Regions from separate parts of the Homo sapiens genome. Here region 2 is reported to be linked to region 1. Evidence: microRNA targets listed by miRTarBase, many of them from high-throughput screens and not tested one by one. Region 1 holds a microRNA gene; the other region holds the end of a gene's coding sequence.

What was found. The annotated mature microRNA hsa-miR-4485-3p reads UAACGGCCGCGGUACCCUAA and lies in region 1 at 3,043-3,062, opposite strand. An mRNA with a match to its seed (bases 2 to 7 or 8) in the 3' UTR can be bound and repressed. Matches are read on the target gene's strand: a 7mer-m8 pairs with bases 2 to 8, a 7mer-A1 pairs with bases 2 to 7 and ends in A, and an 8mer does both.
Region 2: miRTarBase lists TDRKH as a target of hsa-miR-4485-3p. Seed matches in the 3' UTR shown: 7mer-m8 at 1,362-1,368.

Annotation. Positions count from the first base shown.
Region 1 is chr11:10,505,235-10,509,625 of GRCh38, forward strand. MIR4485 (microRNA 4485) reads right to left here and starts at 3,092; the gene lies at 3,036-3,092. AMPD3 (adenosine monophosphate deaminase 3) reads left to right here. Exons shown (of 15, transcript NM_001025389.2): 15 at 474-2,345. The coding sequence ends at 650. It also overlaps the pseudogene MTRNR2L8. RefSeq lists a silencer at 3,888-4,182.
Region 2 is chr1:151,770,970-151,775,360 of GRCh38, reverse strand. It overlaps TDRKH (tudor and KH domain containing), which reads left to right. Exons shown (of 13, transcript NM_001083965.2): 11 at 195-296; 12 at 555-651; 13 at 857-1,867. The coding sequence ends at 909. It overlaps OAZ3 (ornithine decarboxylase antizyme 3), which reads right to left. Exons shown (of 5, transcript NM_016178.2): 5 at 4,031-4,284. The coding sequence ends at 4,142. Among named protein-coding and RNA genes, the nearest start is that of OAZ3, 6.5 kb to the right of the region's middle.

The DNA.
Region 1 (4,391 bases):
TCACTGGTTGGGAAGAGGTTGCATTAGGGGCTGTGCTCGTCGGATGATGATGCAGCAGAGTTAAAGGCTTAAGATTCTTTTCATGCGCAGTGTGGTGCCTTGGATTGGCCCTCCCCAGGAACATTGTCCTTGTCAGCTCTCAGGGGCTTCTTAATTAGAGTCTTACCTCCTTCCCCTTTGCCTTTCCCATCCCCAGCAGCTGCTGCAGACCTTATCTTTCCTCTCTGATCAAGGAAAGCACAGCCAGGAATGAAGGGCTGTCTGAGGATGACTGAGGTTGTCAGGGTGACATCCTTGAGGACACAGAGGCCAGCAGGAATTTTAAGAGTTCTGTGGGGATAAGATGTCCTGACCAAAGATCTGCTTCAGGGGGACTAGTCTGACTTGCTGTGACTGATGTCAAAGCTGCCCACATGGCTATAGAAAGTGAATCAAAAGTATATAGTTTCATTTGTATTTCTCTTGGTCCACAGGAAAAGCAAAAGTTTCTGGGACAAAATTATTATAAAGAAGGACCTGAAGGAAATGATATTCGAAAGACAAATGTGGCTCAGATCCGGATGGCATTCCGATATGAGACCTTATGCAATGAGCTCAGCTTCCTGTCTGATGCTATGAAATCAGAAGAGATCACCGCCTTGACCAACTAGGTCCAGCATTTGACATGCATTTTAACTTTTTGGTTCAATTTCAAGTCTGCTGTGGCTAATAGTGGTCAAGATTCCGAACTAGGACTTTCCTCTGTGAAGAGGATGCCTCTGAAGAAATTTTAAACTGGTGATTTTGGTTGCACTGCTCACTTTAAGAGTTAACATGCTCACTTGTTAGTATTTCTGAGTAACAAGATGGTGACTTCTCCTTGGGGATCTGGGAGCTGAGCACTTGTCTATACTTGTTCCTAATTTTCCAAGTATTTCTCTTGAAACTGCCAGTGCCTGAACTGTTGGGGCCAGGATTTTCCCTGGTCAGATGCCAAGTAACATGTGGTTTTCTGCCATACTTTTCTCCATTGGCCCAGGTAGGCTAATTGGTAGTTGTTCATTTCAGCCTCTGGATGGCTGGCTGCCTTAAACACAATCAATTTCAAAGCTCCATTTCATAAAGGGGCTACTTTGAAGGAGTTAAGATGGAAGACTTCCTTCTTGACAAATTGTGTTTTTAGTGAATTTCTTAAACCGTTTTATTTAGCCCTCCTTCCCTCTTTCTAGTTGGAAGCCAAATGTACTCATGAAAACAGCCACTCCTATTCTGAGTCTTGGTTTCTTCACCTAGAAAGTGAGGGTTTGGACTAGATGAGTGGCTTTCAGGGTGTTCTGTGAATCTCCTCATGAATACTTTAGGGTAGGGGAGGGAAGGGAGTGAGTGATGCTCAGGGGCTGTCAAAGTGACTGCGTTCATCAGTTTTACACTGGGGCTGCTACATAATATTTTCATTTGAACGAAGAACTTCAAAAAGCACAGGACTAGATGATCTCTGTTCCTTTTGGCTCTAATATGCTACAACTGTAGGCCAATTATCACTTTACCAATTAAGAGTTAGGCCAGATAAGTGAAATTTAACTTAAGGGCACACAGCTAATAAGTAATAGGCCTAAACTGGATTTCCTTATTCCAAATCCTGTCTTTTCCCCACTATTCCATTAGACCCCACAAATGTTAGTTGTGTGTGTGTGTGTGTGTGTTTTTAATCACTGTAACCGGATGCATTTTTTTAAGGCAAAATTTCTCCCTTATCTACTATGATGACTTCAGAAGATACAATGGTCCCAGGGGCCAAGTAGAAAGCATTTTTAAAGATTAATCTGAATTAAGCTTTATCAGTGTACTCTTTATCTGTGTTACTAGTGCCTGGTATGTAGTAGGTGCTCAATAAATGCATATTGAATAACTAAGTGAATTTCTTTTGGCAACTTTTTAAGGACATGTGCTCTTAGTACTTAAGAGGCTGCTCAAGGACCTTCCTATCTATTTCTGTGGTCAAATTCAGACTACAGGAGGTCTTTTTGAATCATTATAGTTAGAAGAAGAATCCAGTTTCTGCCTGTGAACTTATTTGACTTTAGATTGTCTCATCTTGTGACTTTATAATGCCTGTCCCCTCCACTGGTCAATTCAGCATATGGAAGTATAAATGCAGTCTTTTTACTAGGCAGATATATATGCTATCTTACAGCTAATTATGAAATTGAATGAAAATCCATTGTTATCTTAGGGATTAGTTTTGAAAAGCCCCCGTTTATATACATTTGCCCTAACATAGGAAGTATTGTGTAGTTTCTCATTGTCATTTTATCTGTATCAAGTATCTTTTTTTAAATTGTTAAATAAAGTCAGCTAGGACTGTGGCTCAATAGTTTAAAACTATTTAAAGATAATCATATTTAAAGCAAATGTTAAAGATTTTTACTCTTAAGATTGGGCACCATGAAAAGCTATCAATAATAATAGCTAATTTATCTTTTACTAAGACTCCGACATGAATGACATTCACTAGGAAAACTCAAAATTTTCAAACTGAAGCTCACCAGACCCAGAAGATAAATCTTCCTTTGTTATTTTCTCTAACTTCTACCCTGTTATAGTTCATGAGCAAAGCTATACATGTTCCTTTCCTTTTCCCGGGGTATTATTTTAGTCTGTCCAGCTAACACCTTGTTGATATGGACTCTAGAATAGGATTGCGCTGTTATCCCTAGGGTAACTTGTTCCGTTGGTCAAGTTATTGGATCAATTAAACGTGGTAATTCGCTTTGACTGGTGAAGTCTCGGCATGTGTTGCTCGGAGGTCGGATTGTGCTCCGAGGTCGCCCCAACCGAAATTTTTCACGCAGGTTTGATAGTTTAGGGCCTGTGGACTTGTTAAGTGTTGTTTGCGTTAATGAATTAAAGCTCCATAGGGTCTTCTCGTCTTGTTATACTATGCCCGCCTCTTCACGGGCAGGTCAATTTCACTGGTTGAAAGTAAGAGACAGCTGAACCCTCGTGGAGCCATTCATACAAGTCCCTATTTAAGGAACAAGTGATTATGCTACCTTTGCACAGTTAGGGTACCGCGGCCGTTAAACGCATGTCACTGGGCAGGCGGTGCCTCTAATACTGAGAATGCTAGAGGTGATGTTTTTGGTAAACAGGCGGGGTAAGATTTGCCGAGTTCCTTTTACTTTTTTTAACCTTTCCTTGTGGGCATGCCTGTGTTGGGTTAACAGTGGGGGTAATAATGGCTTGTTGGTTGGTTATAGATATTGGGCTGTTAATTGTCAGTTTAATATTTTGGTCTGATGTAGGCTTATGCGGAGGAGAATGTTTTCATGTTACTTATACTAACATTAGCTCTTCTATAGGGTAATAGATTGGTCCAATTGGGTGCAAGGAGTTCAGTTATGTGTTTGGGATTTTTTAGATGACAGGTGTCGAGCTTGAACGCTTTCTTAATTGGTGGCTGCTTTTAGGCCTACTGTGGGTATTAAATTTTTTACTCTCTTTACAAGGTTTTTTCCTAGTGTCCAAAGAGCTGTTCCTCTTTGGACTAACAGTTAAATTTACAGGGGGATTTGGAGGGTTCTGTGGGTAAATTTAAAGTTGAACTAAGATTCTGTCTTGGACAACCAGCTATCACCAGACTCGGTAGGTTTGTCGCCTCTACCTACGAATCTTCCCACTATTTTGCTACATAGACGGGTGTGCTCTTTTAGCTGTTCTTAGGTAGCTCGTCTGGTTTCGGGGGTCTTAGCTTTGGTTCTCTTTGCAAAGTTATTTCTAGTTAATTCATTATGCAGAAGGTACAGGGATTAGTCCTTGCTGTATTATGCTTGGTTGCAATTTTTCATCTTTCCCTTGCGGTACTATATCTATTGCGCCGATTTACAATTTCTATCGCCTATACTTTATTTGGGTAAATGATTTGGTTAAAGCTGTTCGGTAGTAAGGTGGAATGGGTTTGGGGCTAGGTTTGGCTCAGAGCGGTCAAGTTGAGTTGAAATCTCCTAAGTGTAAGTTGGGTGCTTTGTGTTAAGCTACACTCTGGTTCGTCCAAGTGCACTTTCCAGTACACTTACCATGTTACGACTTATCTCCTCTATATAAATGCGTAGGGGTTTTAGTTAAGTGTCCTTTGAAGTATACTTGAGGAGGGTGACGGGCGGTGTGTACGCGCTTCAGGGCCCTGTTCAACTAAGCACTCTACTCTTAGTTTACTGCTAAATCCACCTTCGACCCTTAAATTTCATCAGGGTTATCGTAGTTTTCTGAAGTAGAAAATGTAGCCCATTTCTTGCCACCTCATGGGCTACACCTTGACCTAACGTCTTTACGTGGGTACTTGCGCTTACTTTGCGGCCTTCGTCAGGGTTTGCTGAAGGTGGCGGTATATAGGCTGAGCAAGAGGTGGTGAG
Region 2 (4,391 bases), not on the chromosome of region 1:
ATCTTCAGTATATTTATAGCCTAATTTACTTTTTCTTCCTCAGAAACCCTTATCTGATATTACTCTTACTGTAAGATCCTTCTCACCATCTCACCAAAGGAATGTCTTTAAAGTATCAGTCCTTCTGCCTTGTTTCCTCAAATTTGCCCTTGCTTACTGAGAGAACATCATTCCCTTTTCATTTTTCTTCTCAGAAACTTGATATTGGGCTAGAATTAGTACACAAAGGATACGCAATTGAGCTTCCTGAAGACATAGAAGAAAACAGAGCTGTCCCAGACATGTTGAAGGACATGGTGAGCTATTGTAGTTATATAGGGTGCTGCTTCCAGGCAAATCTAGCACATAGACACTAAGGGCTTCTAGTCCTGATACTGTGTTAGCTTTCCTAAGGACTTTGAGCTCCTCCAGTAGTTGACCAAAGGAGCATTTTGTCCCTCTTGGTAGCCAAATGCAACTGCCTTAACCAGGTCCTATGAGAAGAATGAAAGGGTGGCCTCTTTTTTCCTAAAAGCCAACATGTTCCTCCTTTTTTCCTGTTTTCATCCACTCAGGCCACAGAAACAGATGCCTCTCTCAGCACGTTGCTCACTGAGACCAAAAAGAGCTCTGGAGAGATAACACATACCCTGTCCTGCCTCAGCTTATCAGGTACAAGCAGTATTTCCTCCCTAGAGCATCTTTGGAGATTAACTTTTCTCATTCAGTCTTTCCAGAGTAGGGAGGTTAATTGAAGGCTTGGTTCCTAGTCAGGTCATTGAGTACCAAGAGGTCCATTTTTCTTTTGAGCCTCGCTGGCATTGCCTGCTAGAATAGGGCAGTGTCTAACTTTCTCCTTCTTATTTATCTTCAATAGAAGCTGCTTCCATGTCTGGTGATGATAACCTTGAAGATGACTACTTACTCTGAAGTCTGGGCTTCAGTTTGCTCAGCCATCTGCTTTGCTGTGTGAGTGCAGCTATCATCTATCTGTAGCAACAGGAAAGTAATGAGGGCGACAGTGGGGCACTTGCTTTGATTCCCTCTTTCCCATGCCCTGTCTTAATATACTTCTCTGCAGCTGCTTTCCTGCAGCTTAACTTGCTCTCAGATTGAGCACTTTCAAGCTTTTTGTGTATTTCTGTCTTTGGCAGGATTTGGCATAGGAATTGGTGCATGGAGGAGAGGAGTGTATGATAAAGGATCCATGCAGTCCTTCCTTTATTACACATATAGTCTGGCTTGCTGTGGACCAAATTAATATTCTCCTCCCATCAGACTACAAAAAAATTGGACTACCACGCTACAAGTGTGTCTCCCCCATTCCACCTCCGGATCCCTCCCCAACCCTCCAGTGTTTGAATACTGCTGTGTTACTTCCAGGCCGTTCAACGTCAGGCTCAGTCCCCTCTACCAGTCATGATTCACATTACTACTAGGCTGTATCCTTTTTGAGGCTGGGAAACAGTCAGGCTTTCGTCATTGGAAGTGATTCTGCAGACTTCTGACTCACCTTATCAGGTGACTCTGGTTAAGGAAAGCTTTTGAGTGGTGAACTCAAAGACTCCAGTTGAATCAGGAGGCAAAGGCAAAAATTAGCATAATTATATTTAAAAGCCTCAGGAAGTGGGAAGAGAATACTGCCTCCCAGCCTCAATTGCTGATATGTTATTGGAGACAGGCTTTTGAAACTGCTCCAGCTATTTCTCTGTAACCTTTAGTTAAAATATAAGTAGAAAGGAGACAGGAGGCTCAGGAAATTTTCTAAATTGCTAGTATAATATCTATATGTATACACACATATACACCCGTGGAGAGAGAGGAAGAGTATACAGTCCTGTTTGAATCATTTGGAGGATTTTTTTGCTGAATAAAGTTCTCAAGAAAATTTTCTAAAACCAAATTCTGATTGAATCACAAGGTGGAAGCAGGCTGTGAGCCTAAATCTGGTGAAAACTGCCAACTGCCTCACAGAAAGGATCACATCTATGAAACAAGTGTCCCTCCCATATACACATTCATATTCTTTCTCTAAAGTCACTTCAGAAATAACCATTCACTGGCTGGGCACGGTAGCTCACACCTGTAATCCCAGCGCTTTGGGAGGCTAAGGCAGGCAGATTACTTGAGGCCAACATGGTGAAACCCTGTCTCTACTAAAAATACAAAAAATTAGCCAGGCATGGTGGCATGCACCTGTTGTCCCAGCTGCGTGGGAGGCTGAGGCAGGAGAATTGCTTGAACCTGGGAGGTGGAGGTTGCAGTGAGCTGAGATCATGCCACTGCACTCCAGCCTGGGTGACAGAGAGAGACTCTGTCTCAAAAAAATACAAAAATACAAAATACAAAAATTAGCTGGGCGTGGTGGCAGGCACCTGTAATCCCAGCTATTTGGGAGGCTGAGGCACAAGAATCACTTGAACCTGGGAAGCGGAGGTTGCAGTGAACCCAGATTGCACCACCACACAACCTTGTCTCATAAAAAAAAATTCACTAGGAACCAGAACCAATTTAGGTTTAGGCTGTGTGAGTAAGACCCCACCTATACTATTCAAAAGAAAAGGCCCAGATTAAGATTCTAGAAACCTGGATTCTAGGAGCAGCTCTGGTAAGTAGCTCATGTAGTCTTGGAGGAATCTTTAAGGAGTAGATCTCCACTGTAAACTTTTTGCAAAATTTTAACGTGTTTCCTTATAGCATCTTTCTGACAGTACTGTGAGGCTCAAATGCGAGGCTTGAAGTACTTGAGGTGCTTGAAAGTAAATATAAATGTATAGTAATGTGGATGGTAGAAAAATGGCAAGTGAATTTTTTTTAAGGATAAAGCAAGATAAACTAGAAAATTTAAAACTAGCACATAAGGATGCCTTACACAGGTCTTTTTTTTAAATTTAGGGATTAGTAACGTCTACCTCTATACTACATGGCAACTATATTTTCTCACAACCACAATTCTCAAAATTTATTTTCTCAGAAAAATCTCAGTATTAGCCAGGCACCGGTGGCTCACACCTATAATCCCAACACTTTGGGAGGCCGAGGCGGGCAGATTGCTTGAGCTCAGGAGTTCGAGACCAGCCTGGCACCATGCTGAAACCCGTAAATACAAAAAAATTAGCCAGGCATGGTGGTGTGTGCCTGTGGTCCTAGCTACTTGAGAGGCTGAGGTGGGAGGATCGCTTGAGCCCAGGGAAGCAGAGGGTGCAGTGAGTGAGCCAAGATTGCACCACTCCACTCCAGCCTGTGTGACACAGCAAGATGCTGTCTCCAAAAAAAGAAAAGAAAAATCTCAGTCCCAATTAGCAGAAAGGCTCTAGTGAAGGAACAGTTCTGGTGAGTAGTTCAGGTACTCTTGGAGGAATCTTTAAGGAGCTTCCATTTATTTGATGTTTCAGATGTTGCCTGCAATGAACTCGCTGAAGCATGCTCAGCCCTGGAACTGGTGCTACCAGAGTTCCGTAGGGAACCTTTACTCTTTAGAGGTTCCCTGATATAAATCATTCATAAGACTTCCTACCCTGGAAAATGAGTAATGTCTCATTCTTACCTGCAGTTTGTTACTATGTATAAAAGTCTTTTTCTTTAATATGCCTTTAAGTCTTACCTGTTTACAGCCCATTCTGATGGGTTCTTTGTCATTCTGTTAGTATAACCCAGTACTTTTCCTGCTGCCTGGAATGCCCTCTTCTATGTTACCTATTCTGTCCGTTGAGATCCCCCAACTTGGGCCAAAGCCAAGAGATCTATGTGCCTTCTCTGGTTTTCTCCACATCTATAGCACCTCAACTGAAATATATGGATAAAAACAGCCTAACAAAGCTCAGTCTTTCTGAACTAGGAAGTTCACTGATTAGTGCTCAGTAAATGGTTAGAATAAATGGGGAAATAGTTTGGGGCATGGAGGAAGGCAAAGGGAACCAAAAATCCTTAGGTACTTTCCTCCGTAGTTCAGGTCCCTGTGATCTTTTCAGTGAATTTAGCTCTGTTAAGGTGTATATCCCACTCCAGTCAACCCTATTACCCACCCCCCCAAGAAACCGTGAACACTTGATGATTGCACTACCCTTTATTCCTAGGATGGAAAGTGTCCTGAATCACATCCCGGGCCCCTGATTCCATGTGTCAAGGCTTCCAGCCCCTCAAAGCGTTGGAATAAGCATGTTCAAGGAGGCTCACTGGGCAGGTGGCCAACATCCCTTTCAAGGGGATACACCATAAAGATGACATTGTCCAAGGGAGGGAGGGCAGGGTGATCTGGTCTGACCACCTCAAAGCCCATGTAGCTGAAGGCCCGCAGCAGGGCACCTGTGAAAGGATAGAACAAATGATTAGAACATGCTTTAAAACTCAATACATGTATGCCCCCAGATTTGATTTCTTCCACTAGGGAGTGGCCCTGGGAAGCAGTGTAG